Regions from separate parts of the Homo sapiens genome. Here all the other regions are reported to be linked to region 4. The links are microRNA targets in miRTarBase. Many come from high-throughput screens and were not tested one by one. Region 4 holds a microRNA gene; each other region holds the end of a gene's coding sequence.

Region 1 (7,126 bases), not on the chromosome of region 4:
AAAAACCTTATGAATGTAATGAATGTGGGAAGTCATTCTCTGAGAAGTCAACCCTTACTAAACATCTAAGAACTCACACAGGTGAGAAACCTTATGAATGTATTCAGTGTGGAAAATTTTTCTGCTACTACTCCGGTTTCACAGAACATCTGAGAAGACACACAGGGGAGAAACCTTTTGGATGTAATGAATGTGGGAAAACCTTCCGTCAGAAGTCAGCCCTAATTGTTCACCAGAGAACTCATATAAGACAGAAACCCTATGGATGTAATCAATGTGGAAAATCATTCTGTGTGAAGTCAAAACTCATTGCACATCATAGAACACACACAGGGGAGAAACCCTATGAATGTAATGTTTGTGGAAAATCATTCTATGTTAAGTCAAAACTAACTGTACATCAGAGAATACACTTGGGGAGAAACCCTATAAATGTAGTAAACGAGGGAAATTACTCTGGGTGAAGTCAGAACTTTGTAGAACACAGAACATAAAGGGTGAGAGAAATCTGTTAATATAATGATAATGAGAACACCTTTGCCCTGAAGTCAGTTCTCACAGTATAGAAGAGAACTTAAAGAGGGAAAAAACAATATGAAGATAGGGAATGCAGGAAAACATTATTCTGGAATTTGGACCATACACTATGTTACAAAACTAAAAGTGGAAAAAACTTATTGGTGAATGAATATAGGAAACATTTTGCCCAATGCCACTCTTCATTAAACATCAGAGAATTCACACGGGGTGAAACCTGGGTCAGCATCCCTAGGTTGAGAAGGGATGCATTTTTCTGCTACTACTACAGTTTCACAGAATACCTGAGAAGACACACTTGGAGAAACCTTTTGGGTGTAATGAATGTGGGAAAACCTTTCATCAGAAGTCAGCTCTAATTGTTCACCACAGAACTCATATAAGACAGAAACCCTATGGGTGTAATGAATGTGGAAAATCATTCTGTGTGAAGTCAAGAGGCCAGAGAAAATGCACAAACTGTAGGAAACTATAGGAAAGCATTTACTATGAGGTTATATTTTATGGAGTATATGTAATAAGAAGTAGCTTCTCAGTGAACATCAGATAGTAGAGAAAGTATTTTTAACTGTATCCAATGTGTGGATGTTTTAAGTTAAAATCTAAATTTAATATAGAACAGAGGTGTTGAGTTGCAGGATATCTAGCAATTTAAGAAAATGTGGAAAAAATATTTTTATTGAGAAATAGCATTTTACTTTGTTAATATCTAGTTTAGTTCATTGTCAAGACTGCTATTTTCTAAGAGACTTCTAAAGACGCCACTCAAGCCAATGGCTATAAGTAGTTCAAAGGTTTATTGCTTAGCCATATGAAAAATAAGGGAAGATTTTTTAGCAAGGGGACCCACAAACAAGAGTGCTCTTGTATGTCCAGAAGAAAGAGAAAGACCATCAATCAGGGGCCATAGTACAGGAGCCCACCAGCAGGATTTTTGAATAATCCTAGGGCAGACTAAATTCAGACGACCCATCTCAGAATGGTGGATCAAAGCAGCAAGTCAATTTGCCTTGTATGCAACTTATGAGGATTAGTAGAAGAGAGTGGGTCCAGATTTCTGGTGGTTTCTGCCCTGCAGATGTCTAACACATAAGCCAGGACATTCTGCTGTGAGTGACTTATTGTACCCAACTCTATTTCTCTCCATACTGAAACATGTCTTTCATAGGTGATACAACTTTTTAAAATGTATGTGTAGATATAACTTAAATATGGAGCTTTCAAAAAGCACAAATAGGCTGGACATGGTGGCTCATGCCTGTAATCCCAGTACTTTGGGAGGCTGAGGTGGGCAAATCACCTGAGGTCAGGAGTTCCAGACCAGCCTGGCCAACATGATGAAACCCTGTCTCTACTAAAAATACAAAAATTAGCCGGGCATGGTGGTGCACATCGGTAGTCCTGGCTACTAGAGAGGTTGAGGTGGGAGGATCACTTGAACCTGGGAGGTGGGGGTTTCAGTGAGCTGAGATCATGCCACTGCACTCCAGCCTGAGTGACAGAGAGAGATTCAAAAAACAAAAAAAAAGCAAAAATATACTTTGCTATTGGGTAAGGTATAGTAGTTGGCAGCAGAATGGACCCATTGAGGATAACTATAAAATTACAGAAAATATTTAAATGCAACTTATTGCTATAGAAGCAAAGAGGACTAAAGGGCAAAATTCTAGAGAGTGGTAAATCTCAGAAAGCACAAGCATAAAATGCAGCTCTGGGGGCCCTTTCCACTTCTGGCTATAGGGAAGAACCTGAATACTGAACTTGATTCAGGCAGAGGACCATAACCTGGGGGTCAGGGGAAGGCATGGGGGGGACCAGAAACCAGAAGAACAATCAAGACTGCAATGAAAAAAATGGATACATTAGGAGCTTCAAACACATATAATTTCTCAAGAAATTTCCAGATGTCTCATGCTGCATAGGGCAGGAGCCTGAAAAGCTAATTTGAGAAGATAATAAGTAGGATTTTTGTTTTGTTTTGCATTTTGCAGTACAAAGGAGAAATGATTAGAACTTAGGAAGTGCCAGTGGGTTGGTGAACATGCCATCAGTAAAAGCCCTGGAAACAAGGTCATACTAGAGATTGGTTGTGCCTTGTCACAACTGCAAACAATACCTGAGTGGAGTATTCAAAAACTTGCTTAGAAAGAAAACTCTAGGAACAGATGGCTTCACTGAAGTTATTCCAAATATTTAAGAAATAATACCAGGCTTTTATAAACTTTTCTAGAAGAAAAAAGATGGAACTTTTCCAATTCAGTTTTTGAGGCCAGTACAACCTTGATAACAAAACCTAAAAAAAAAACAACAAAAAAACCCATAAAGCTATAGACCAAAGTCTCATAGATTTAGATGCAAAATCCTAAAATTGAAAAAAACATCTAGCCATATCCATAAACTATATCATCACCAAGAGATGTTTATTAGGGCAATCAAAAGATTTATTATTTTAAAAAAATCAGTGTGGACTTCCATTCCTCTTTCTTTTGATTCCCCCCTTTGACTTTTCATGTATCTCTCCTGCCTTCCTTCCCCAGAGTGGAGGAGTTAGACTTGCCTCGTGGGATGAGAGGAGTTGTGGCTTTGTGTCTGCTGGCACCAAGAGGGCTGAGGGTGAGGTGTGGAAGGGACAGGGGGAGGAGATGGGCAGCATTGTTGAGAGATTGGTAACACTGAGCAAATAAATATGTTGAGAATGATGACAGCAAGATTTCTCCATTAGAGAAGGTATTTATAAAAATAGGAATGAGGAGAGCTAGAAAACCTGGAGTGTGGCATTAGAATAGAACTCATATCTTTTAAATATATAGGAACAAATAAATAAATTGTTGTGTGTGCACATATGCATATATTTTGTGTTCATTCTACTGAGAGGACCTAAACACAATGACACCTCAGTAACAGTAAGCACACCAACTGCCAAGTTATTAGTTCCTAAATACTATCCACAAAAAAGGGGAACAGGGATGATTCCTAGTCAGAGATTGGGAGAAATACAAGATGAGCCTGAATCATCTCATGTACCTGACAGTAAGAAAATACTCTGGCTGGTCTCAGTGGCTCATGTCTGTAATTCTAGCATGTTAGAAGGTCAAGGTGGGTGGGTTGCTTGAGCTCAGGAGTTTGAGACCAGCCTGGGCAACATGGCACAATTGTCTCTACAAAAAATACAAAAATTAGCCAGGCATGGTGGCATGCACCTGTAGTCCGAGGTACTCAGGAGGCAGAGACGTGGGAGGATCGCTTGAGCCTGGGAGATTGAGGCTGCACTGAGCTGTGATCGTGCCACTGTACTCTAGCCTGGAAGACAGAGTGAGACCCCATCTCAGGAAAAAAGAAAAAAAAAAAGATGTCATTCAGCAGGTTAATGGATAAACTGTGGAACATCCAGAAAACTTTAACATTCTTCAAAGAAATAGAAAACACAATCCTAAAATTTATATGGGAACCACAAAAGACTTAGAATAGTCAGCTATCCTGAGCAAAAGGAATCAAACTGGAGGAATCATATTACCTGACTTCCAATTATTCAACAGAGCTACAGTAACCAAAACAGCATGATACTGGCATAACAACAGACACATAGGAACAGTATAGACAACCCAGAAACAAATTCATACATCTATGGTGACCACTTTTGACAAAGGAATGAAGAACATACACTGGGGAAAAGATAATGTCTTTAATAAATGGTGCTGGGAAAACTGGATATCCATATGCAGAAGAATGAAACTAGACCCCCATCTCTTAGCATATACAAAAATCAAAATTAATTAAAAAGTTAAATCTAAGACCTCAAACTATGAAACAGCTAAAAGAAAACATCGGGGAATCTCTCCAGGACATTGGAGTGGGCAAAGATTTCTTGTGTAATACCTGACAAACAGGCAACCAAAGCAAAAGTGGACAAATGGGATCACATCAAGTTAAAAATCTTCTGCATTGCAAAGGAAATAACAAAGTGAAGAGACAACCCATAGAATGTGAGATAATATTTGCAAACTATCCATCTGTATTAGGCCATTTTTGAAGTACTACAAAGAAATACTTGAGACTGAGTAATTTATAAAGAAGAGGTTTAATTGGCTCACGGTTTTGCAGGCTGTACAGGAAGCATGGTGCTAACATCTGATCAGCTTGTAGGGAGGCATCAGGAAGTTTCCAACCATGGTGGAAGGCAAAAGGGGAATAAGTATCTCACATGGCAGGTGCAGGGCAAAGAGAGGGGGGAAGGGAAGTGCCACACAACCAGATCTTGTGAGTACTCAGATTTTGTGAGGGGTGCTTGAGGTCATGGATACCCATTTACCCTGATGTGTTTATACACATTTCATACCTGTATTAAAATATCTCATGTACCCCATAAACATATACACCTACTTTGTACCCACAAAAATTTAAAAATAAAGTTAATTTCAATGTTTAAAGACTTGTTATTAAAATAATAGCAGTTTCTATAAATTTAATATTTCAATAAAACTCCCAGTATTTATTGTTAACACTGGAAAAAGTTTTCCAAAACGTATATGGCAGAAATATGGGCCTTGATGTGAGGACAGCATCAATTAATGAGGGATCCTCTCCCTTGATCAAAACACCTTCCACCAAGACCCACCTTTAACGCTGAGCATTACCTCTCAAAGTGAGATTTGGGCAGGGACTAATATCCAAACTGTATCAACATCTGACAAGGTGTTCACAACCAGAATATATAAGGAGCTATAACAATTCTATAGAAAAAAAAATCTGATTTAAAACTGGGCAAAAATCTGAATAGACGTTTCTCAAAAGAAGACATACAAATGGCAAACAGGCATATGAAAAGGTACTCAACATCATTGATCCATTAGAGAAATGCAAATCAAAACTACAATAAGATATCATCTCACCCCAGTTAAAATGTCTTCTCTCCAAAAGACAGATAATAACAAATGCTGAAGAGGATGTGGAGAAAAGGGAAACCTCGTGCACTGTGGAAATGTTATTAGTACAACCACTATGGACAACAATTTGGAGGTACCTCAAAAACTAAAAATAGAGCTATCATACAATCCCACAATTCCACTGGTAGTTATATACCCCAAAGACAGGAAATCAGTATATTGAAGATATATCTGCACCGTGTTTACTGTAGCACTACTCACAATAGCCAAGATTTGGAAGCAACCTAAGTGTCTAACAGCAGATGAATGGATAAATAAAATATGGTACATAAACACAATGGAGTACTATTCAGCCATAAAAAAGAATGAGATCCTGTCATTTGCAACATTGTAGATGGAACTAGAGATCATTAAGTGAAATAAGCCAGGCACAGCAAGACAGACATCATGTTCTGACGTATTTGTTGGAGCTAAAGATGAAAACAACTGAACTTATAGAGGGTAGAAGGATGTTTACCAGAGGCGGGAAAGGCAGTGAGGGCATGGTGAGGGGGAAGTGGGGAATGTTAACGGGCACAAAATGTAGAATGACTAAGACCTAGTATTTGATAGCACAAGGTTACTACAGTCAATAATAATTGTGCATTTTAAAGGTATAATTGAATTGTAACACAAAGGATAAATGCTTGAGGTTATGGATACCCCATTTACCCTGATGTGATTATTAGACATTGCATGCCTATATCAAAATATATCATGTACCCCATAGATATATACACCTAGTATGTACCCACAAAAATTAAAAATAAAGTAAAATTTCAATGATTAGGAAGACCATTGTTAATATCAGTTTCCTTTAAATGTTTCTATAAATTTAATACAATTTCAATAAAGCTCCCAATATTTATTCTTAGTACTGGAAAAAGTTTTCCAAAATGTGTATGGCAGAAATAGGGCCAAAATAGGCAAGAAAACTATTTTCGAGATGTCAGTTTTCCTCAAATTGTTCTATTAATTAAACGCCACCTGAATTAAAATTTGACAAGTGGATTATAAATTTATGTGGACATTCAAAACAATTATGGATACATGAGTCCAGAATCACAGCCATAAACCATGAGGTGCTTGGGAGATTTTCAGAAAATATGCCAATGAAATCCAAGGGGAAAGACATGTCTTCAAAAAGTGGTGTTACCTTTGACTCCCCAAAGCATATATAAAGCCTCTACTCATCATAGATCTAAATATAAGAGCTCAAACTTAAAACTTGTAGAAGAAAACATGAGAAAATTTTTGTAGGTTTGAGTTAGATGATGATTTCTATATAGGACAATAAAAATATGGAACATACAAAAATAAATTTAATGCACTTAATTATAATACAAATGATTTACTCACTTTAAACTTTGATAAATTAGATTTTGTTAAATTCAAAAGCTTGTGTTCTTCAAAGCACACAGTTAAGGAAATGGAAAGGCGAGTAATGGACTAAAAAAAATACCTGTAAAACAGCTTTGGTTAAGAATAGAAGAAAAATCCTAATAAGAAAATTGGTGAAAGAATGGTGTGGAAAGTTCACTACAGAAAAAATATGAATGGCAAATAATCCTGATTTGGGGGAGAGTGTTCAATACCAATGCTAATTTTTTAAATGTCCTGTGTTTAATTTTTTGGAGTTTGTGATTTGCAACATGCCCCTACTGCAT
Region 2 (7,126 bases), not on the chromosome of region 4:
TGGAAATTCTCCCAGGAATAGTTTTTGTGGAATACAGAAATTTGTATTAAAAATTAAAATGAGGAAGTACCCATTCTTCTAGGAGCTATGCACAAGCAGAACGTTTAATGGTTATGTCAACAGTCGCACCTATTTTGAAAACTTGTACTTGCTTTCTGATTCCATCCCGCCCAGCAGTGCCTTCTGCTAGCCTTGCCGAAGATAGGAGTTGACACAGGTTAACTCCACCAGAAATCGTGGAAAGCCTCTTAATGGACTCTCCAATGACACCATTATAAACCTTGATACTTTTAGTTAATGTCTGGGAGGAAAGTCAGACACTGTCAGAAAAAAGAAAAACAATGAATCTGTCAGTCTTTACAATGAGATTTCCAAAATGCTTAAAAAGATAAGGGCCTTTGTTACATGCTATTATTTTTTTAATTGACAGATAACATAGTATGCTTTATCATGTACAACATGATTTTGAAGTCTGTATACATTGTGGAATGCTTAAATCTAGCTAATTAACAAATGCATTATGTCACATAGTTATCACTTTTGTGGTGACAGCACATAATAGCCACTGTTTACATTTTTCAAGAATATATTGTCAGCTGGGCATTTGACTCATGCCTGTAATCCCCGCAATTTGGGAGGCCAAGGCAGGGGGATGGCTTGAGCCCAGAAGTTTGAGACCAGCCTGGGCAACATGGCGAAACCACATCTCTACAAAAAAATAAAAAAAGTTAATGTAGAGAAATAGGAACGCTTTTACACTGTTGGTGGGAGTGTAAATTAGTTCAACCATTGTGGAAGACAGTGTGGCAATTCCTCAAGGACCTAGAACCAGAAATACCATTTGACCCAGCTATCCCATTATCCCATTACTGGATATATACCCAAAGGATTATAAATCATGCTACTATAAAGACACATGCACACATATGTTTATTGCGGCACTATTCACAATAGCAAAGACTTGGAACCAACCCATATGTCCATCAATGATAGACTGGATTAAGAAAATATGGCACATATACACTATGGAATACTATGCAGCCATAAAAAAGGATGAGTTCATGTCCTTTGCAGGGACATGGATGAAGCTGAAAACCATCATTCTCAGCAAACTATCACAAGGACAGAAAACCAAACACCACATGTTCTCACTTATAGGTGGGAATTGAACAATGAGAACACTTGGACACAAGGCGGGGAACATCACACACCAGGGCCTGTTGTGGGGAGGGATAGCATTAGGAGAAATAACTAATGTAAATGATGAGTTGATGGGTGCAGCAAACCAACATGGCACATGTATACCTATGTAAGAAACCTTCAATTGTGTACGTGTACCCTAGAACTTAAAGTATAATTAAAAAAATACCGCACGCCTGTAATCCCAGCACTTTGGGAGGTCGAGGTGGGGGGCTCACGAGGTCAGGAGATTGAGACCATCCTGGCTAACATGGTGAAACCCCTTCTCTACTAAAAATACAAAAAATTAGCCGGGCATGGTGGCGGGTGCCTGTGGTCCCAGCTACTCAGGAGGCTGAGGCAGGAGAATGGCATGAATCCGGGAGGCAGAGCTTATAGTGAGCTGAGATCGTGCCACTGCACTCCAGCCTGGGCGACAGAGCGAGACTCCATCTCAAAAAAAAAAAAAAAAAAATTTAGCAGGGCATTGGTGGTGTGAGCCTGTAGTGCCAGCTGCTTGGGTTGCTGAGGCTGGAAAATTGCTTGAACCTAGGAGGCAGATGTTGCCGTGAGCCGAGATCGTACCACTGCTCTGTAGCCAGCAGAGTAAGACCCTGTCTCAAAAAAAAAAATATTGTCACTAAATATAGTCATCTTGCTATACAGTAGAGCTCCTAAAATTTATTCCTCCAACTTAACTATAACTGTGGATGAACCCAAAAGATATTATGTTAAATAAAATAAACCAGGCACAGAAAGACAAATACCATGATTTCACTCACATGTGGAATCGAAAAAAGTTGATCTCACGGAAGTAGAGAGTAAGATAATGATTGCTGGAGACTGGGGTGCTTAGAAGGGAGGGGTGATGGGGAGATGATAGGAAACATACCATTATTTTTAACTATTTAAATATTAGGATTGGGGAAAAATATTTCAGTTCACAACAAACCTAGCCTGAAGTTAATTTTTTGAAGTATACTTTTTGATAAACATTTTGGCCAAGCTGCTAGAAAATTAATGACAAGATAACTATACTTTGGGTAATGTTGTTATTAACATCAAATAAAACTTGATGGTAACCTGACTTTGATAGGTCACAAGTGAGGGCTCCATAATCATTTGCTATTTCTGAGATTGAAAATACTTGTTTTGGTATAGAGATTGGTTCACAGTGTAGACTTTCTGGCTTAGAATAATAAGTTTTATCCCTCTTCTCTCTGAATGAGGAATTTCTATATCAACTTTTTAATAATCTCCAGAAGCCAACACCCTTTATCTTATAATTCGGTAATACTTGTAATGATCCAGGTAAAGCCTCTTAAATAAGTCCTTGTTTTGCTAATACCATTACTGTATTAAATGCTTTTACTGTATTCTCCCAAAAATTATAGAAGAGAGAATTAGATGAGTCCCCAGAGAAAAGACTGGATTTCCATTACATCTGAAGGGTATGTTAATTTAGTCTTGGCACTTCTACATGACTCATTCTGATGATAAATTATTTAAGAAATTTCCTATAAAAATCTTCCAGTCATTTTATATAAGTATTTTGTAGGCACAGAAAACCTTTTAAAACAAGATATGGTGGACATCTTCAAATGTTGGTCTGGATATGCTATTCAGGAGGGATAAGGCCACACCATGCAGTTTTTATTTGTCTGTCCGACCACAGCATAGCACGTTGTTATAACGGATCCTAGGTGTTATTTTTTAGAAGTTAGATCATGCGTTTTATTCACATATTGGTATCTGTTAGTGCTTATAAACATGGAAGATTGAACCATGTCACACTCTAAAGTGTATGGAACAATTGTATTAAATTTCTGGAAAGAAAATAATATAGTTTCCTTTTTGTAGAGATTTCTCCAAGATTAAACAGAAACGGGCCAATAATGAAATCCAATATTCCAAGGATAGTATTCTCATTTAGAAAGAAGACTTTCAATCAGAGGGTTAAAAAAAATCAGTGAAGCCTGCTTCTGACAAATAGGAATGAGGTTAAATCACTTAGTCTAGGAACTATTCTACATGGTTTTACTATTTAACAGGAAGGGGAGAAAAGGCAAGTTTGATTTATTGAAATGGCTATGGAACCCAAAGAAAAGTTTTACAGCTTGAGCAAACAATAAATGGTCAGAACTGTACAGAATCAGAAAGAGGCTCTGAAGATAGATTACCTTGGAAATGGATTAGTAGACTATTGAATATTTAGGTTAAATACTTGTCTGCTTTGGCAACATTTTCCTATGGTGTGTGCTATTTCCATAAATGCCAGGCAGATTGTATAGGAGCCATGTACGGATCTAATGACTTCTCTGACGAGAGTAGTTAGGACTTGTTTCCCTTCTTTCTGATGGATAACCTTTAGTGAGGTTATTAACTGATACAGCTGGCTGAGTCTTCAAAGGCTGCCGAATGGAATTATGGCTGGCTGTTCGCCTCTGTAAGCATGTGGGAGATGTGGGCATCCTATCTGGGGAGGGCAGGCTGGCTTTGGCGATAAGGAAGGAGATGATGCTGGACACTGAGAGAGCATTTGATGAATATTCTATTACTGGGTGTCTTTTTTATGTGCATTTTTAGATAATAGAAGTGAATATTCGTAGAGTGCTTTGCAATTTTTAAAGGAGAAATGACAGGGGCTTATCATTTAACATTTTTTATGCACCAGACATATTGATACTAAGGTCACACAGCTAGTGAAATGACCAGGGCAGTATTCAGCCTGGAGTTAAACCTGTGCTCTTAAGTGGTGGGTTACCTTGCCTGCCAAGTCTATCCTGAGAGGCTTGTGGGTGCTAGTCACTGCTATTCTTCTTGTGTAGATGATGGAGCAGAAAAGCCAAGTCACAGGCTAAGGAGGGGTAAAACTAGGAGTGGCTCAGAGTCCTGTGTGGTTTCTGTGTCTTCCCGTGATAATGATATTCCCTCACTAGTCCTGTGAGCTAAATTCACATATGAAGAAGGAATCTAAGTGTCTTTTCCACTAAGTTAGCTAATCGGTCTGGTGTGTGTGTGTGTGTGTGTGTGTGTGTGTGTGTGTGTGTGTGTGTGAAAGAGAGAGAGAGAGAGAGAGAGTGTTGGGGAAAGGGAAAGAGTGTAATTTACCATTGGTTTTTTGGTTTTTTGGTTTTTTGTTGTTGTTGTTTTTTTTTTTGGGTGGGGGGGAGTTTTACTCCTGTTGCCCAGGCTGGAGTGCAATAGTGCAATCTCAGCTCACCGCAACCTCCACCTTCCGGGTTCAAGCAATTCTCCGCCTCAGCCTCCTGAGTAGCTGGGATTACAGGCATGTGCCACCACGCCCGGCTAATTTTTTGTGTTTTTAGTAGAGATGGGGGTTCCACCATGCTGGTCAGGCTGGTCTCGAACTCCCGACCTCAGGTGATCCACCCACCTCCCAAAGTGCTGGGATTACAGGCGTGAGCCACCGTGCCTGGCCGGGGTATTTTTATATAACAAACGCCTAGTAAACATCTATAGAAAATACACAGATGAGTGAATCGTGGACAGAGTTTACTATTTGTATGGCTGGTAGTCCTAAGCTTCAGGGTGTCCAATTAGAGTTCTGGTATTACAAAGTGGAAGGGAGTGTGCTTTTAAATTATGTATCAGTACTGTCGTCAGTGCCTTGGTCTGGGAGCAAGAAACACGACAAAGGAAGAAAGACTGTTTGAGTCCCCTCTCGGTAATGTTTTAATGGCAGAGTCTTACACTTGGGAAGTTTCTTCAGATGGTTAGTTTTGATGTTCTTAACTCGGGGCATTTGGTCTTCTAGAGTTCCTTTTGGAAAGAATGTGATCATTAGTGAAGTTTGAGAGTGAAATGGCTAATTTGTCTTGCTGCTTATAACAGGGAGAAATCTCTTCTTAGCCTGAAGCCATTGAGACCCTTCAGAAGATTTGTAGCAATCTCTAGCGTTAAGGAAAAATCCAATGTTTGATGAAAAATATTTAACTCCTGAATGTGTCGTTGTTGGAGGTTGATCTAACAAGTTTGCAAACATATTGTTTGTGCAGTTAATGCAGGGAAGTGTCTAAAATATGTGGTTCTGCTAAGTAAATGGTTCTCAAACAGCCTTCCCTCTTCCTGCTCATAAGGTTGAGTGATGAGAATCTTTTTCTACTTTGCAAACAGACTAATATAATTCTTACTGAGTTTTCCTCCCATCTTTCTTTACCCTTTGATATGACTGCCTTCAGCAGATGGTAAAAATATATGAAAAAGTAATGAACAAACATTGAAAGCCTGGAGATGTGATTTTCCTTTAAATAGTTTATGCATTATTTTTGAGATGGAGATTTTCATATTATCTATTAATATCTTTTTAAAGCACCACCATTTCCAAGTGTTTACTATATTTCAAAATCACTCTACTAAGTGTCTTTAAACTTTTCTCACATAATCTTAATTTAAGCGCATATAAATGCAGAGGCCCTCATCACTTACTCTGGATGTTCTATAGATCCAAACAGAATGGGAAAGTTCTCTGATTTTTTAATCATTTATTCAGCAAATATTTGATTGTTTTCTATGTGTCAGGCACTGTGCTGGGCACAGAAGATCCCATAGTGAAGAAAACAAAACCAAAGAAAAACACAATCTGTGTTTGGAGGCCAATGATAGAGTCAGAAATCAATTAAATATATAAATACACTAGTCCCCACTTATCCAAAGTTTCACTTTCCTTGGTTTCCATTACACATTGTAATGTCTCCTCAACTCTTGACTCAGGCATGACTTGAACATTTCACTAGTTACTAAGCGAAAATTAGTGGTATACTATAAGTATTGTTTTTATCCCTCTGGTGCCTAGCGGAGCATCTGGCACATGGCTTACTAATTGCTCGTTAGTTTAGTTATTGACTAATGGAGAGACAGAAACACATGTGGTAGTTTTTAATGGCCCACTAGGATAAATAACAAACTAAATTGAGATAATAGATAATAATCTATGAGTTCAAGATTGAGAAAGATCAACATGGGTTTGTATTTTAGAATTGAAATAACCTCCTACATCATCAAATTCTTTTCATAAGTAAATTGAAGTTGGAATGGTTCAGTTACTTGGCTGGGCTTAAACAGTCATTGGTAGCAGAATTGCCTTTTCAACCATTTTTATTTTTCTGGAAAGGCTTTGCAGCAGGGCTGAGAGTTTATATGATCTGTGGATGTATAGTTTTGGATAAGTAGAGAAGACAGCATTCCAGACCTAGGGTCTGAGTTAACTGCAAAGTCAATGTGAATAATATGGCTTCTGAAGATAATGAGGAACATTTCATTGAGGAACCTTTCATGGTCAAGTGTGTCTGCAAGGGTGTGAGAATTGCATGGTGTGACTGTTCTATGGAATAATCAATGAACTCTGTTGCCTTTTGACTTCTTTTTACTTTTTCTTTTTTTCGAAATACCTTGTAGCAGAATGGTAAGAGCACAGTTTCTGGAGCTAGAATGCCTGGTAGCCTTGGGAAGTTACTTAATCTGTGCCTCAATTTTCTGATCTGTAAAATGTGAATAATATTGTGCATATCCTCATATTTCTGGTTCCTTAAGAAGGCCCTCATATTTACTACTGTAAATTGAATTGTAGCTCTGTAGCATAGAAGAATAATTTTGTAAATTATTATACATCAATTAGCCACCTCGATATATTTAAGGTCCTAACCATCAGCCATGATTCCACAATCTAAGGAAAACACCCACTCTTTAGCTGAGCCAATGTTTCTGTTCCATCCTACGAGGTAGAGTTTTATGATTTGATTATTCCAGAAGAGCTCTGTAATTATTGTTTCAGATGTAGAGAATCAGGTTGGCTGTAGCCCTTTAACAACCCTATCTTGAGGAGCTTGCTTGGTCAGGTCTATAAGTATAAACAATAAAACTATCAAAAGTTCTGTGTTTGTATGGGCAGAGACAATTTGAGATGAGGCTCTCATTCTGCAGAGAG
Region 3 (7,126 bases), not on the chromosome of region 4:
AGAGGCAATAAATCTGAGTATTTATTGAGTAGGTGTGAGGAACTCACATAGACTGCCTGAAGAGTAGAGATGCATGGGGTTGGGGATGTGCTGGTAAGAGATGAAACAGAAAGAGGTGGGCCCACATCAGTCTGTGAAGGTAAGGCCCTTGCATGTCATTAGTGTCCCGGTATTATGTCACTGCTTTCTAAAGGAGTCTCATGTTAACAGTAGAAACATGTAAAATTTAGGAACCAGACGGAATTGTGATTTTAAATAAGCCAATCAATTTCCCTAGTCTGACTGTTCTTATCAGTAAACACAGAATACAAGGGATATAATGTAAGCACATAGTATTTGTAATAGTAGTTGACATTCATTGAGTGCTTTCAATGTGGTAGGTACTCTTGTTTATTTTAAAAGAAGCATTTTACTAGAATCATAGTAGAAACTTAGTGGTCAGACTTCATGTAGCATCACTTACAACCTTCATTGAATATTGTGAAGAAACTTAGTGGTCAGACTTCATGTACCATCACTTACAACCTTCATTGAATATTGTGAAGTGCTTGTTGAATCTGAGACTTAAAAATTTTGTTCTTTTAGAGGAAACATGGAGAAAGCCATTGACATGTTCAACAAAGCTATTAACCTGGCCAAATCGGAAATGGAGATGGCCCATCTGTATTCACTTTGCGATGCCGCCCATGCCCAGACAGAAGTTGCAAAGAAATACGGATTAAAACCACCAACATTATAAAACAGGGGGAAAGCAGACTGACCCTCTTTTTAAAAGTTTACCCCCTCTTCAACTGAACCCTAAAGACACTGTCATGAACTGTGTTGAATGGTGGAAATCAGTATTTCTGTTTGTGGTGTTGTTATTTGTTACATCTGTTTCATGTCTAGGTGTTGTGGGTGTGGCTGTTGAAGGAAGTTTGCAGTCTTGCAGCTTTTATTCCCTGTGCAACAAAAGATTAGAACATGTTAAAGGGATTTTTAAATAAAGTTGCAAAGAGTACAAATGATAATTGGCCATGCAAATAAAAACTGATTTGTTGATTTTTTTTTTAAGGGGGGTTGGCAGTTGATTATGTTCTGGATGATTCCGTCTATATATGTGTGAATAATGTAAGTATTTTACAGCATGTTGATTTTTAAATTAACGTAGTAAATGCTGTAAAATAGATTTATATTCAGTTAACCGCTTTCAGTTGATTTTTTGAAAGAAACAAAGGTTAAATGGGGGATTAAAGTAAAATTGAGAGACCCTTTAAACCATTGTCAGCATGCACAATGCCTCTGATTCTGCAGTTTTAGAAACTTGGTGGCACTTATTAATCCTCTTGGCCCCTTTCCACTCTAATGGATAGTGTACATTCTTCTTAAAGTCCACAACAGCAGATTTTCTTGCAGTAAATTATGCAGATGCAAAATATTCTAATTGATATATGTGTTGGAAGACTGAGTATTGATGGGGGAGTGGACCAGACAAAGAGGTAAGATGAAACAGTAGTGTGTTTATAATTGTCTGTGACTATTTTCTATAATAATTAGTACTATTTAATGGTGAGCTTTTAAAAATGTAGGATAGAGGGTACAGTGGCACTGTATATACTATTTATAGTCTCAGCTACTAGGGAGGCTGAGGCAAGAGGCTTGAGACCAGGAGCTCGAGGCTGTAATGTGCCATGATGATTGCACCTGCGAATAGCCACTGCACTCCAGCCTGGGCAATATAGCAAGACCCCATCCTTTAAAAAATTTTAGAACTTTTTTAAAATCAAAGTGCAGATTGCTTGTATGTAAAACCCAAATAAAGGTAGAGTAAGTGTGATATATGGGAGTATTAAAATAGCTTAAAATTTCTCGTGAAGGACATGTGGCTAAAGGGTCAAAAAGGATGTAAGACTTGGAGCCAGAGCATAGTATTTCCTGAAATAACAAGTTTAGTGCTTTAACTATGGCTACATGTGCTTAAGGAATTTTGAGCCACTTATTTTTGAAGATGCTGAGGACATGTAGAGTGCTTTTTGTAGTGAGCTAACCTTGATCTCTAAGGACTAACTACCCAGGTCCAGGTCTTCACTAGGGGTACTGACAGTGTTTAAGCTTTACTCCACCTCCTTACTTAGAAATCACTTTACGATTTATTTCCATTTTCCACTTTTATAGACCATCCTTTTGCTTATATGCTAGATTTTTCTGGTGAGGGAAGGGTTGTGTTCTTCAGGGGTCTTTTGTTTTGAAATACTCAGGATGGGGAGAGGTTTATTTAAGAACGAATTATAATTATGGTTTACACTGTTGGGAGTAAAGGAGCATTTTTACACCCCTTAAGGGTGCTTAATTCTGTTGAAACCAAAAAGATTTGTCTACAAATGCTATCTTTTTTAGAAACTATTAGAAATGACTCCCTTTCAAAGTCAATCTTTGGAAAATATTGAGGAGGTCACTAATTAGTTGGTGCAGTTAATATAATTCAAGATGATTTGGATGATGGGAAGTTTGAGACCGCTGCATTTTGTTTTTAAATTATGCACCTTCTGATAACCCCCAAATACAGAAATGTTCTACATCTCTGAATGACCTCTGACTTTAAAAAAGTTTTTATTTGCATGGCTGTATTTACATTAACACTGACATTTTCTTCTACTCTTCTCCCTTCTTTCATCTTGGGGTTGGGTAGAGAAACACAAAGGAAACTGAAGCATGTGCCATTCTATACTGTCATTCCAAATTCTCATGGACTATTGCCTGTTGTGAAAATGTTTGAAACTGCACTGAAAGCTGCATCTGTCTGTATCTTTCTTTTGTAAATGACCTCACATGTAAATTCACCAAATAAATATTACATTCAAGCTCTTCTATCTATTCTTTAAATAGAAAGATAGGTAGTTTAGGCTGGGCATGGTGGCTCACACCTGTAATCCCAGCACTTTAGCAGGCCGAGGCGGGCAGATCACGAGGTCAGGAGATCGAGACCATCCTGGCTAACACGGTGAAATCCGTCTCTACTAAAAATACAAAAAAGTAGCCGGGTGTGGTGGTGGGCGCCTGTGGTCCCAGCTACTTGGGAGGCTGAGGCAGAAGAATCATTTGAACCCGGGAGGCGGAGGTTGCAGTGAACCTGCTGAGATCACGCCACTGCACTCCAGCCTGGGCAACAGAGCAAGACTCCGTCTCAAAAAAAAAAAAAAGGTAGTTTATTCATTTATTATGCTATTGCGTAAATTCACAGTGAATCTCTTGTGAACTCAAAATAACTTTGAAAATAGGAACATACAGGAAATGTTAGCATATGAAGCAAAGTAAGTTTGTTGGTATGAATGGTGGAGTTTCTTGAGAGCATCCACCCCTCCTACTGTGAAACAAGGCTCCACGGAGAGCTGGTAGAGCCAACTTATTTCATTCTTTGCCTCTACCTTACCCATACATGCACAGCAGCCTGGAAGCTTGCCAATCAGACATGGACCCTGTGGATAAGTTTATTTTGAATCTGGTTTCACCAGTGAGATTGATCATAGTTCTCAACCACGTGGAGTCTCTCAGAAAGCATACCTGAAATAATCATCCTCGAAAATTGTGGTATAAGTAGAGAATACATCCCAAAACAATAAAAAGCAACTTTGGCTGTAAAACAGTTCAGACAGAACTTTCTGCCCTCTGGGAACTCAAATTGTAGTTTAAATAGTAGTTTGTACCTGTAGAAGTCAACTAATTGTTATAAGACTATAACAGGAGGACAATATAGCCAAACCAGGAAACTTAGGAGTATAGAATAACAATTACCCAAGACTGTCCTGTATGGAATTTGTATTTATAAGGAAATAACTTAGGAGTTGTTGTGGGGATACGGGTTATAATTAGTCCTATTCCCATCCTCTGCTAAATTGATTTGTGAACAAAGTGACAAAATTTTAATTTACTTGCAAGCTTTACCACACTGATAGGATGAGTAATGATTCCCCAAAAGACAGCCACATCCTTATCCCTGCAACCTGTGAATGTTACTTTAGTTGGCAAAAAATGGGCTTTGCAGATGTAGTGAAGGGTCTTGAGAAGGGGAGATTATCCTAGATGATCTGGTGACCTTAAAATGCAGTCACAAATGTCTATGTAAGAGGAAGGTTTTAGACAGAAGAGGAGATGGCAGTGTTGCCACAGAGGCAGAGACTGGAGGTGATGTGGCCACAAGCCAAAGAATGTTGGCAACTACCAGAAACTGGAAAAGGCAAGAAACGGATCCTGCCCTAGAGCAGAGTGCCAACACCTTCATTTTGGCCCCATGAATTTGGACTCCAGAAGTAAAAGAGAATAACTTTGTTTTTTTTCAGCCACTAAATTTGTGATGATAGTTTATTACATCAGCCATAGTAACAAATATTCCTTTGGCTATTGTGTACAAGCAGATAAATGGTTTAAAGGAATGCCTTTGAGTATGCTAAAGTAGAATGACTTCATATACACACAAATTTTGGCCAAAGATGGTTTAGGCAGTGAATGTACACCCATGCCACAGACTGGAGTTTTCATCAACAAGTGGGGGTATTTGTGATTTAAAATATGAATGATTGCACTATAACTATCAGACCAAAAAGCTGCCCTTCAGGTATAAAGTAAAAATTGAGATCCCTCTGCCAATATTCTACAAGAGACATCAGAAAGAAGGCACTGTTTTCAGACTCTTAGCATGAAAATAACTAGTCTGGTTTACTTCAAGGTGATAGTGCACAAATCATATTAGGAGTTGACAGCTATAGATCCTTCTCAAAGGTCTTCATGCTGGAGGGCCTGCTGATCACTGGGATAGAAGTAGCTGTGGTACCTGGCCAAGGGGAGGAAGCTGAACATGGTGTATGCTTGGGGTCAAGATGATTGCTGCCTTTCAGAGCTCAGGATACATGGCTCAAATTTCTCCATTTCTTTTGTTGGTGCTTAAAGATAACCTGTGCAAGTGTTGTCCTGGAAGGCTATGAAACAGCTTACCTAGAGCAAATACAGGAAGACCATGACTAACATTGGCTCTTGGGCATTGTTTTAGAGGGCGAAAGGTTTAAAGCAAGAATGCAGCATGGTAGGATTCTCTGCAGAGATGATCCATGGCCTAAATTATGAACTGCTATATTAAATAACTTTTACCTGATTTTATTTCTCAATATTGCTCTGTGTCAAGAGCTGTAAAAGGTCTAAGATGTTACCCTTCTTGAAAACTAGTTTTCTGAATGCTGGCAGAAGACATGAGACTCCTGGGTCAGACAACAGACTTAATTATTTAGAACATAGCAAGCAACATGAGTTTGAGCCACAGATCCCATGGGAGTGACACAGGGCAAGCTAGGTGGATACTGCACATGCAGTGGGTTTGCGTCACAGCCCAAATCTAATGAGGTCACAAGCAAACTGGCCTGACTTTCGCATTAGAGGGAAACACTATTTTGACTGTATCAGATAGTAAACAAACCTGTCCTATGATCCAGAGGAAGATAGTCTCTACCTTCCAAAGCTGTCATTATATGAACATTCTCGATTGGATAGTTTGGAACAAAACACCAATGCCTCTACTCACAAAATGTATGGAGAACTGACTCCCCATCTCTATGTGTTCTTTTATGCATCTCAAGCTTAGTTTTTCAGCAGTGTAGAGCTTTACAGTGTCTGCCTTAGACAACAGCATGATGCAGGGAGAAATTACTGGCCTGAGCATCAGGTGACCTTAGCTCTAAATCAATACTGCATTTTTTTTTTGATACAGTTTAACTCTGTTGCCCAGGAGTACAGTGGTGTGATCTTGGCTCACTGTAACCTCCTCCTGCCTTACCCTCCCGAGTAGCTGGGATCACAGGCATGTGCCACCACACCCGGCTAATTTTTGTATTTTTAGTAGAGATGGGGTTTTGCCATGTTGGCCAGGCTGGTCTTGAACTCCTGACCTTAAGTGATCTGCCCATCTTGGCCTCCCAAAGTGCTGGGATTACAGGCGTGAGCCACCATACCCGGCCTCTGAATTAACACTGCTTTCACTGCTTTCTAATGGAGCTAAGATCTTAAGTAAATGAATATTCAGCTCTACAGCATATGAAGTTACATCACGTCCCAGGCTCTTCCCAGATCAGACTCCCTTAAGGTAAGGAAATCATTCCAGAATTATTTGGCCAGAACACTTGGTGAGAGAGCAAGTGCAACCTGTAGGAATAAATTCATTCCAACTCAACATTTACTAAGCACTCATGATGGTGAGGGTTAGCCATAAAAAGATGAACATAGAGGAGCTCAAAAACTGAGTTTTGGTGGGCTGGATAGTAAATGAACCTGTCATATGCTTCAGAGGAAGGTAGTCTCTAAAACAGAAGTACAATGTAGTGCCATGGAAACAAGAGTAATAAATTGTGCTAAGCATTAAGGAATAAACAGGATTTAGGTAAGGAGCTTCCAGAATGTGGGGAAACAACCACAACAAATCTAAATAAAGGCACAGCATGAGTGTGAGCTGAAAATGAGGCATTCAAGGTAGAGTCCAGCAAAGTGAAGTGGTTGTTTTTAAACGAGTGGGGAAAAGCCAACAGGAGAGCTATGTGAATGAGAATTATCGGCATATATTGAAGACCATGCATGTAGCTGAGATTCCTCAGGACAAAATAAAATGTAAAGGAGCTAAAATAAAACTATTAATATAAGGGCCTTTAACATCTAAGGGACAATGTTAAGTGGTGAGAGAGGCAGTATGAGCAAGGTCACACCAATGGTGTTGAGAGAGGCCACATGGACAGGTCTACAAATCGGTCTTTAGTAATCTGCCAGAAGAGTGTCACTGGACAGATGAGGGCAGAATCTGCCTGCCGGGGTCTGAAAAGCAATTGAAAGAAACTAAGAAATTGGGTGAAAAAAAATCAGGAAGAGTACTTTACAGGATGGCGTGCTCTTTGTTCTGAGGGAGAAACTTTGAGAATGAATCTACAGACAAAAGACTTAAAGCCTAGTTAGCACAACGGGATATACTTGGAGGATTCAATATGCTTCAGGAAGAGCTAGGATGACAACATTTGGAATTACTGGACCCTGCCCACCATGTTCTGTTCTTGCAGATTCTTGTTCATTTGATTATGAATCAGCTGTGAAGTAAATCATTGAACAAGAAGCACTGTCT
Region 4 (7,126 bases):
GCTTATTGCACATGTATTAAATATAATTTTTAACTCTCAAAAGTGTCCAATCTGGATGCTAAATTATATACTCATTCTGATGCACCAAGGTAAACCTGCGTGTTACATGCTGATATATATAAAGAACTATAAACAAATGTCCCTTACCTGAAGAAGCATACAAAACTTATTAATGATGCAAGATATATACATAAAATTCTTGCCAAATGTGTTTTTTATTAAAAGCTTCAATTTTTGGTATAGCCAGTAAACACTAAAAATTCAGAGAAGAGATATAAGGATATGGATTAGAATGGTTAAGGCTAGTTTAATGGAGTTGCTGTACTAAAAGACATTGTGGGCATGAAGTCACATAGTTATGGGGATGAAGACGAATATGGTCTACAGCGGATCAATCAACAGTGGAAATGACTGAATATAAAGAAGAGTATGTTAATAAGAATAATAGGTAAGGACTCAGAAATTCTGGTCTCTTGTCCTGCTCTTCCACTGGCTAACTTTGTATCATTGAGAAAATTACTTCTTCATTTTGACTTTAGTTTCTTGATTTGTAAAATGAGGGATTGAACTGGATTCATCCATTCATCAGTTTTTTTATGATGAGATTACTTTGTGCAAGACACTCCACTAAGGACTATGTAAATGATTTTTCAAGTTCCTTTCCTGCTTTAATTTTTATGGTAATCACTTTTGTCACCAATACCTCCAATGATATTGTTGTAGCCAGTTTAGAATCACGTGCTTCTATGTCAAAGAAGAATATTTCTTGCAGGTAAATGTTCCCAAACCAACAAATATTTGTTGCATTAAGTTGAATTGAAACTTTTTTCTTGCAAGTACCCTTTGTTTCCTAATTGGATTAGAACCATGTTTTCATTCCCTGTGATGGTAATGCAACCCTAGAGTGATAAGTGACTGCCAGGAAAAGCTGGCTTTGTGTATTTTCAGACTGTGAATATAGCTGTTATGTTAACAGGTAACTGAGGCTGCAGCCAACTCAGCTGGGAAGCATGAATGCTGTGCAATGGTTTTTTTTTTTTTTTTTGTCCCTGCTTGCAAATGAAACCAGTTTCCCATTTGCCCTACCTCCCCGATCTAAAGAATCTTGCTCTTATTCCCAGTGCTAATCACCTAACAGGAAAGGTCATGCTCCCTGGAGTGGAGTTATGGTACTGAACAGCAAGGAACTCTAGCAACTCAAAGAAGCTGAGTTGTCTTCTGTGAATCCAGCTGATTCAAGGCTACAGGCCCACTTCCCAGTGCAGGTTTTCCTATTTTGAAGGGAGTTGGAAAAGTAACCCTAAAACATCAGTATGGATTATACATCACTTTTGATAATACACACTGATGCTCCCTTCCACTAACTGGATAAGTTGAGGATAGATCTAGCCTAAAAGGAATCTGATGAGCAAGAGAAAATTATTTTTACTTCTCAAATATTCATTCTGTACTTGAAAATTGTGGCATGATAAATGTAGCTGTATATTTATCCATAATTAACTCTGGAGCCTTCTTAATATATAGTATATGCAAAATACAAGATCAAATGCAGATCATGTTTAAGTTGATAGCTCATTCTTTTATCTTTGTCACTTGTCAGAAGTCAGAGACAGATATTGTGTGTGCCTCTACAGGATATAGTTAAAGCCAGGTGGAGTCTACCTCTGACTAATGTATGATTTTCACATTGATATTGATGGTCATGAAGCTAGCAGTAGGGAATTAAATGGAGAGAACTCAAGACTTTATCAAGACAAGTTGAATGAAAACTAAAAGTAGGAAAAAATAGGAGTTATAATAAATGTTTGATCATAAATGAGTGCTACAAGGAAAGCAAATAATCGTGAGGGTATTTATTTTCTCCAGATTGCACTTTTACACACAGAACACGTTGTAAACGTTGTTACCAGGGGTTTCCTCTCACTTTTGGTGTGGTTAGGGATTGGCAGGGAAACTGAAGTCCTTTCAGGAAAATATTCATAGTCAGTACCGTTTACTAATTTTTTAAAAAAATAAGTGAATTTTAAGTGTTAAGAAATTTCTACTAGCTTTCCACATAGATCTGTTGACATTTTTTAAGTGTATTTTTTTTTCAGAAATACATAATCTTGTAGGTTTAAGCCTGTAAATATACAGAGGCACTTTTAAAAGTGTTAAATCAGAGATATGAACAACTGAAAACTAACCAATAGGAGCTGGAAATAGAGTTGTAAGCAAATGGTTGGGAATCTGTCTTTTCAAATATACTGCATGAGAAATATAAATCAGTCTTTGTTTTATTCTGCCAGTCATATTAGAATATTCTACACCCTCAATCTATAAAGCACTCAAAACTTTGAAAACTTCTGACTAAACAAGGAGAAGTAGGAAGAGGAAAAGAAAAAAGCATATGGAATTGCTTGACAATGTGCTGAAATATTAAGCTGCAGACATCTCTGACTAAGTGTATGTGTAAAATAAAGACCAAATTTGAAAGTAGATTATTTATTTTGAAAATGAGCTCAATTATTTCAGGGTCTAGAAGCAAACACAACGTAAACCTCTACTCATCGTGTATGTGTGTCGGTATGTGTTAGTGTTTAATTACCACTGTGGCAAAATAAGAGCATGATCCAAATTCTGTGCCTCATCCCAGAACTTTCAGAGATTATTGACACCTTACAGAGTCATTGTAAAGGATCAGGTGCAGGAAGGAAAATTAAAATGCAAACTCACACTGACGTGCAGAGTGAGTAACCAGTCTTAGAAAACCTGAAAAGCCATGACATTGAGCAAGGCAAACTGGGTTTTAAACAGGCAATGGGAAGGCTTCGTTTTTTGCAATTGAAAAAAAAGCAAAATTCGCTAAGGGAGAGTGAGTGTAAACCTAAAAGAAAGGAAGCTTAATTGAGACCTACAAGATGGTGGGTATGTCTTTTTTCCCTGAGGAGCTATGAAACTTTTCAGGGACAGAAATAATAAGAAAATAGATCTGCATCCATTGTGGTTCAGGGTAACTGACTGGGCTCTTTGCCTAACTACTAGGCAACTTTGCTTAATGTAGAAAGAAATGACTCAGGTTAAACAGAATGCTTCGCTGATTTTTCCAAACAAACCTACTTAAAGAATTTCAGAAACAGGGAGTTTCCTCTCAGATGAGCTAGTGAAAACCTACTCATGCCCCAAACAATGTAGTAAACACAAATTGAGAGCGAGCAACAAAATAGCCCGAGAGTTCAATATAATGTGGAAATTCATAATTTAGAAACAAAGTCTGTCATTTTTAATACCTTCAAACAGGAATTTAACAATGTCTGTCACTGTCCATCTTTGAAATGCAGAGGTATGAGATGTTATATAACCAAGATCTTTAGGTTAGCAAGCATATAGATCAAATATGTTGTAAATGGAATCCTTGTACAATTTTAAACCTTCTTAAAGTGATAATTTGTAATATGTTTTTGACCATTATGTAATACGTTTATTTATTTATTTATTTATTATTTTTTTCTTTTATTATTATACTTTAAGTTTTAGGGTACATGTGCACATTGTGCAGGTTAGTTACATATGTATACATGTGACATGCTGGTGCACTGCACCCACTAGCTCGTCATCTAGCATTAGGTATATCTCCCAATGCTATCCCTCCCCCCTCCCCCCACCCCACCACAGTCCCCAGAGTGTGATATTCCCCTTCCTGTGTCCATGTGTTCTCATTGTTCAATTCCCACCTATGAGTGAGAACATGCAGTGTTTGGTTTTTTGTTCTTGTGATAGTTTACTGAGAATGATGATTTCCAATTTCATCCATGTCCCTACAAAGGACATGAACTCATCATTTTTTATGGCTGCATAGTATTCCATGGTGTATATGTGCCACATTTTCTTAATCCAGTCTATCATTGTTGGACATTTGGATTGGTTCCAAGTCTGTTATTGTGAATAATGCCGCAATAAACATACATGTGCATGTGTCTTGTAATACTTTTGTAGGTTTCAGTAATATTCTACAAGAAGAATGGATAACCTTAATGATCTCGAATATTTCTGGTTTTACTTTTGCTTGAGCAGTTTCATAAATGAATATTTTACTTGGCACATTATTTTTATTATTAAAAGAAAAAGGGCTTCTCCTATTACAAAAAGTAGTTCTATAAATATTTTGATCAAATTTTTAAACTATGTGACAAAACAATGTGAAATAAATATTTCAAATGCCATTTATTGATGAGTAAATTGTAAATATTGCTAAATTCCATTTACAAATTCTTGGAGGAACTTGGTTTTTAAAGGAAAACATCATGATCAATGTATGGATGTGCTCATTAGGAGACTCTTGGCCTTTTTCAGAAGGTTATACTCTGCCATAGTATAAAGAATCCTGGTGTGTTCGGGTGATATTTTCAATCTAAAATCTAGGAGGCAGGTGCTCACTTGTCCTCCTCCATGCTTGGAAAATGCAGGGAGGAGGCCATAGTGGCAACTGTTACCATGATTAATTTCGTTGGGATAGAAGATGGACCCGCTGGTTGTAATCAATGCATTGAGGACTCTCAGATCAGTGGGACTGTGAAATTTTAAACTCCTCAAGGTAGAACACAGTGGTAATGTTTTGAAATTTAAAGATTTTGAAATGCAAGCTACTTTTCTCAGGCCATTTCTTCTAAACAACACAACATAATGTTTAAGCCATGTGTTGTTCACAGATTATAATGTTGCAGTGATAAAATATATACTCCATTGGCAAAAATAAACAGCGGTAAAGGGACTGAGATTCTTGATTTTTAACTTTGTATTTAACCTTGTGTAATGCTGCCTGGAAAATTTTTGTAAAAGTATGAATAGATGTAAGAAGATTAATATATTATTACTGTATTTTACAATCTTTCTGTCCTTGAGTTTGAAGTATATTACAGGTTAAGGTTAAGCCAGGAAGTAAGATTGCTTTATAGAACTTTATAACTTTCAAAATTGACATTTGAAGAAATTGTGCTATACTATAATAGTGAAATAATAGTAATTACAAAGTAAATATAATCATCATTGAAATATAAATTTTCATACATTTTTTGTTCGACACATATTTATATAATACTTAATATATGAAAGGTATTTTCCATTCATAATCTATTTATCTTTAATGATAATCATTTTAGCAGTCTAATACTGGAAGTAGTATTTTCTTCAATTGACTGATGATAACGAATCCTCGAACCATAAAAAGTAGAATTGGATATTGTCAGTCTCTACATCTCTACTTAAATGTATTTTACATTCACTTTAAATGAAAACAATGAAACACATATATCTTTAAGAGTGATTAATGATTAGAAATAAGGGAGGCTTCTTATATGACACGGAATGCTAGTTAGAATAAAGTACACGGCTGGGCCATTGGGAAGTTGAACATTAAAGACTTTGCCAATCACATCTTATCATTTGCCACACTGCAGGTAGAGATTTATCCACATTTTGATCTTATAAGACTCAAATCTCATAGTACACAAAAGGTGTGTGTTACAGAGTGTTTTCAAGCTATGACATACCACAATGAAGCTTGACAGTAAATGTTTAATGGTTGGCTCTTTTGGTAACAAATTGGGCATATTTTTAAAATTATTGACATTCATTTTTGCAATGGCACAAACATCTTTTGAAGACTTACTAAATACAGGGCACTATGCTAAGTGTAATGAAGACAAAAGCAGATTCTGTGCATTCAAGTAGCTTACAGTCTGGGGAATAGAGATTTCTTGACCTTATTTCAAAAGTAGGACCTTTCTATCTTATGGATTTGTGATACAACATCTATTTTATTGCGCTGTTTCTCCTTGTTTCGTTCTCTTTCTTTCTTTCTTTCTTTTCCTTCCTTCCTTCCTGTCCTTCCTTCCTTCATTCTTTCCCTCCCCCTCCCTCCTTCTTTCTTTCTTTCCCTCCCTCCCTTTTTCTTTCTTTTTTCTTTCTTTCCTTCTTTCTTTCTCTCTTTCCTTCTCCTTTCTTTCTTTCTTCCTTTCTTTCTTTCTTTCTTTCTTTTTTTCTTTTCTTTTCTTTTCTTTTCTTTCTTTCATCTGTGTATTTCATCAGTGTCTACACCAGGCTGAAGTGTAGTAGCACAATCGCAGCTCACTATAACCTCGAACTCCCTGTCTCAAGCCATCCTCCTGCTTCTCCTTGTTTCTTAAACTTGAATAAAATGTTTATTCGTAGTAGATTTTCTGCTTTAGCAGATGCCACTGGATTCTGTTGACATATAAAATTCACGAATAGATGCATATATTTTCTCTTAAAACTGTTTTCTGCTTTTGCATAGTCCTTATATTTTAGAACATGAAATCATTTACCCCTGTACTCTGTTAGAAGCTCTTCTGATATGGTGACATTGATTAGTATATTCTCATTTAAAAGTGGAGAAACAGTTCTGTGAAATACTGAACATGGATTTCTGACTAGCTCTCATAGTGAGGGTTTTCTTTTATGATTTGATTAGTTTTCAAAGTAAAAAAAAAATCTATGTCTTTCCAGACTTGGCTAGGTTCAAGTGGTCATCCATATAAGATCAACAAGGGATAAGTTGATTTTCTTTCAACACTTGCTTTCAACATTTTACTTTTTTCCTCATTAAAATTCAAATTGCTCTCAAGAGCAGAGAAGTATGACTACATTTCCCAACAGATAATAATGAAAAATATCATCGAGAAAAGATGTTATGCCATTTTATTTTATTTTAAGTTCCAGGGTACACGTGCAGGATGTGCAGGTTTGTTACATAGGTACACGTGTGCCATGGTGTTTTGCTGCACCTATCACCCCATCACCTAGGTATTAAGCCCAGCACGCATTAGCATTTCATCTTGATGCTCTCCCTCCCCTTACCCCCACTCCCCGGCAAAAAGCCCCAGTGTGTGTTGTTCCCCTCCCTGTGTCCACGTTTTCTCACTGTTCAGCTCCCACTTACAAGCGAGAACATGTGGTGTTTCATTTTCTGTTCCCGTGTTACTTTGCTGAAGATAATGGCTTCCAGCTCCATCCATGCCTCTGCAAAGAACATGATCTTGTTCCTTTTTATGGCTGCACAGTATTCCATGGTGTATATGTACCACATTTTCTTTATCCAGTCTATCATTGATGGGCATTTGGGTTGATT

What was found. Region 4 holds the annotated microRNA hsa-miR-764 (GCAGGUGCUCACUUGUCCUCCU, at 4,405-4,426, shown strand). A microRNA usually pairs through its seed, bases 2 to 8, with sites in the 3' UTR of a target mRNA and lowers its output. Matches are read on the target gene's strand: a 7mer-m8 pairs with bases 2 to 8, a 7mer-A1 pairs with bases 2 to 7 and ends in A, and an 8mer does both.
Region 1: the mRNA of ZNF37A is a reported target of hsa-miR-764. Seed matches in the 3' UTR shown: 7mer-A1 at 1,835-1,841 and 7mer-m8 at 3,734-3,740.
Region 2: the mRNA of PBOV1 is a reported target of hsa-miR-764. Seed matches in the 3' UTR shown: 7mer-A1 at 4,560-4,566.
Region 3: the mRNA of TOMM70 is a reported target of hsa-miR-764. Seed matches in the 3' UTR shown: 7mer-m8 at 1,680-1,686.

The regions. Positions count from the first base shown.
Region 1 is chr10:38,118,374-38,125,499 of GRCh38, forward strand. ZNF37A (zinc finger protein 37A) reads left to right here. Exons shown (of 8, transcript NM_001324250.3): 8 at 1-6,252. The coding sequence ends at 464. Among named protein-coding and RNA genes, the nearest start is that of ZNF37A, 28 kb to the left of the region's middle.
Region 2 is chr6:138,211,653-138,218,778 of GRCh38, forward strand. It overlaps PBOV1 (prostate and breast cancer overexpressed 1), which reads right to left and starts at 6,839. Exons shown (of 1, transcript NM_021635.3): 1 at 4,334-6,839. The coding sequence starts at 6,743. The coding sequence ends at 6,336. All of the region lies in intron 4 of ARFGEF3 (ARFGEF family member 3), which reads left to right.
Region 3 is chr3:100,359,177-100,366,302 of GRCh38, reverse strand. It overlaps TOMM70 (translocase of outer mitochondrial membrane 70), which reads left to right. Exons shown (of 12, transcript NM_014820.5): 12 at 586-2,872. The coding sequence ends at 739. It overlaps NIT2 (nitrilase family member 2), which reads right to left. Exons shown (of 10, transcript NM_020202.5): 10 at 4,668-7,126. Among named protein-coding and RNA genes, the nearest start is that of NIT2, 28 kb to the right of the region's middle.
Region 4 is chrX:114,635,041-114,642,166 of GRCh38, forward strand. MIR764 (microRNA 764) reads left to right here and starts at 4,395; the gene lies at 4,395-4,479. All of the region lies in intron 2 of HTR2C (5-hydroxytryptamine receptor 2C), which reads left to right.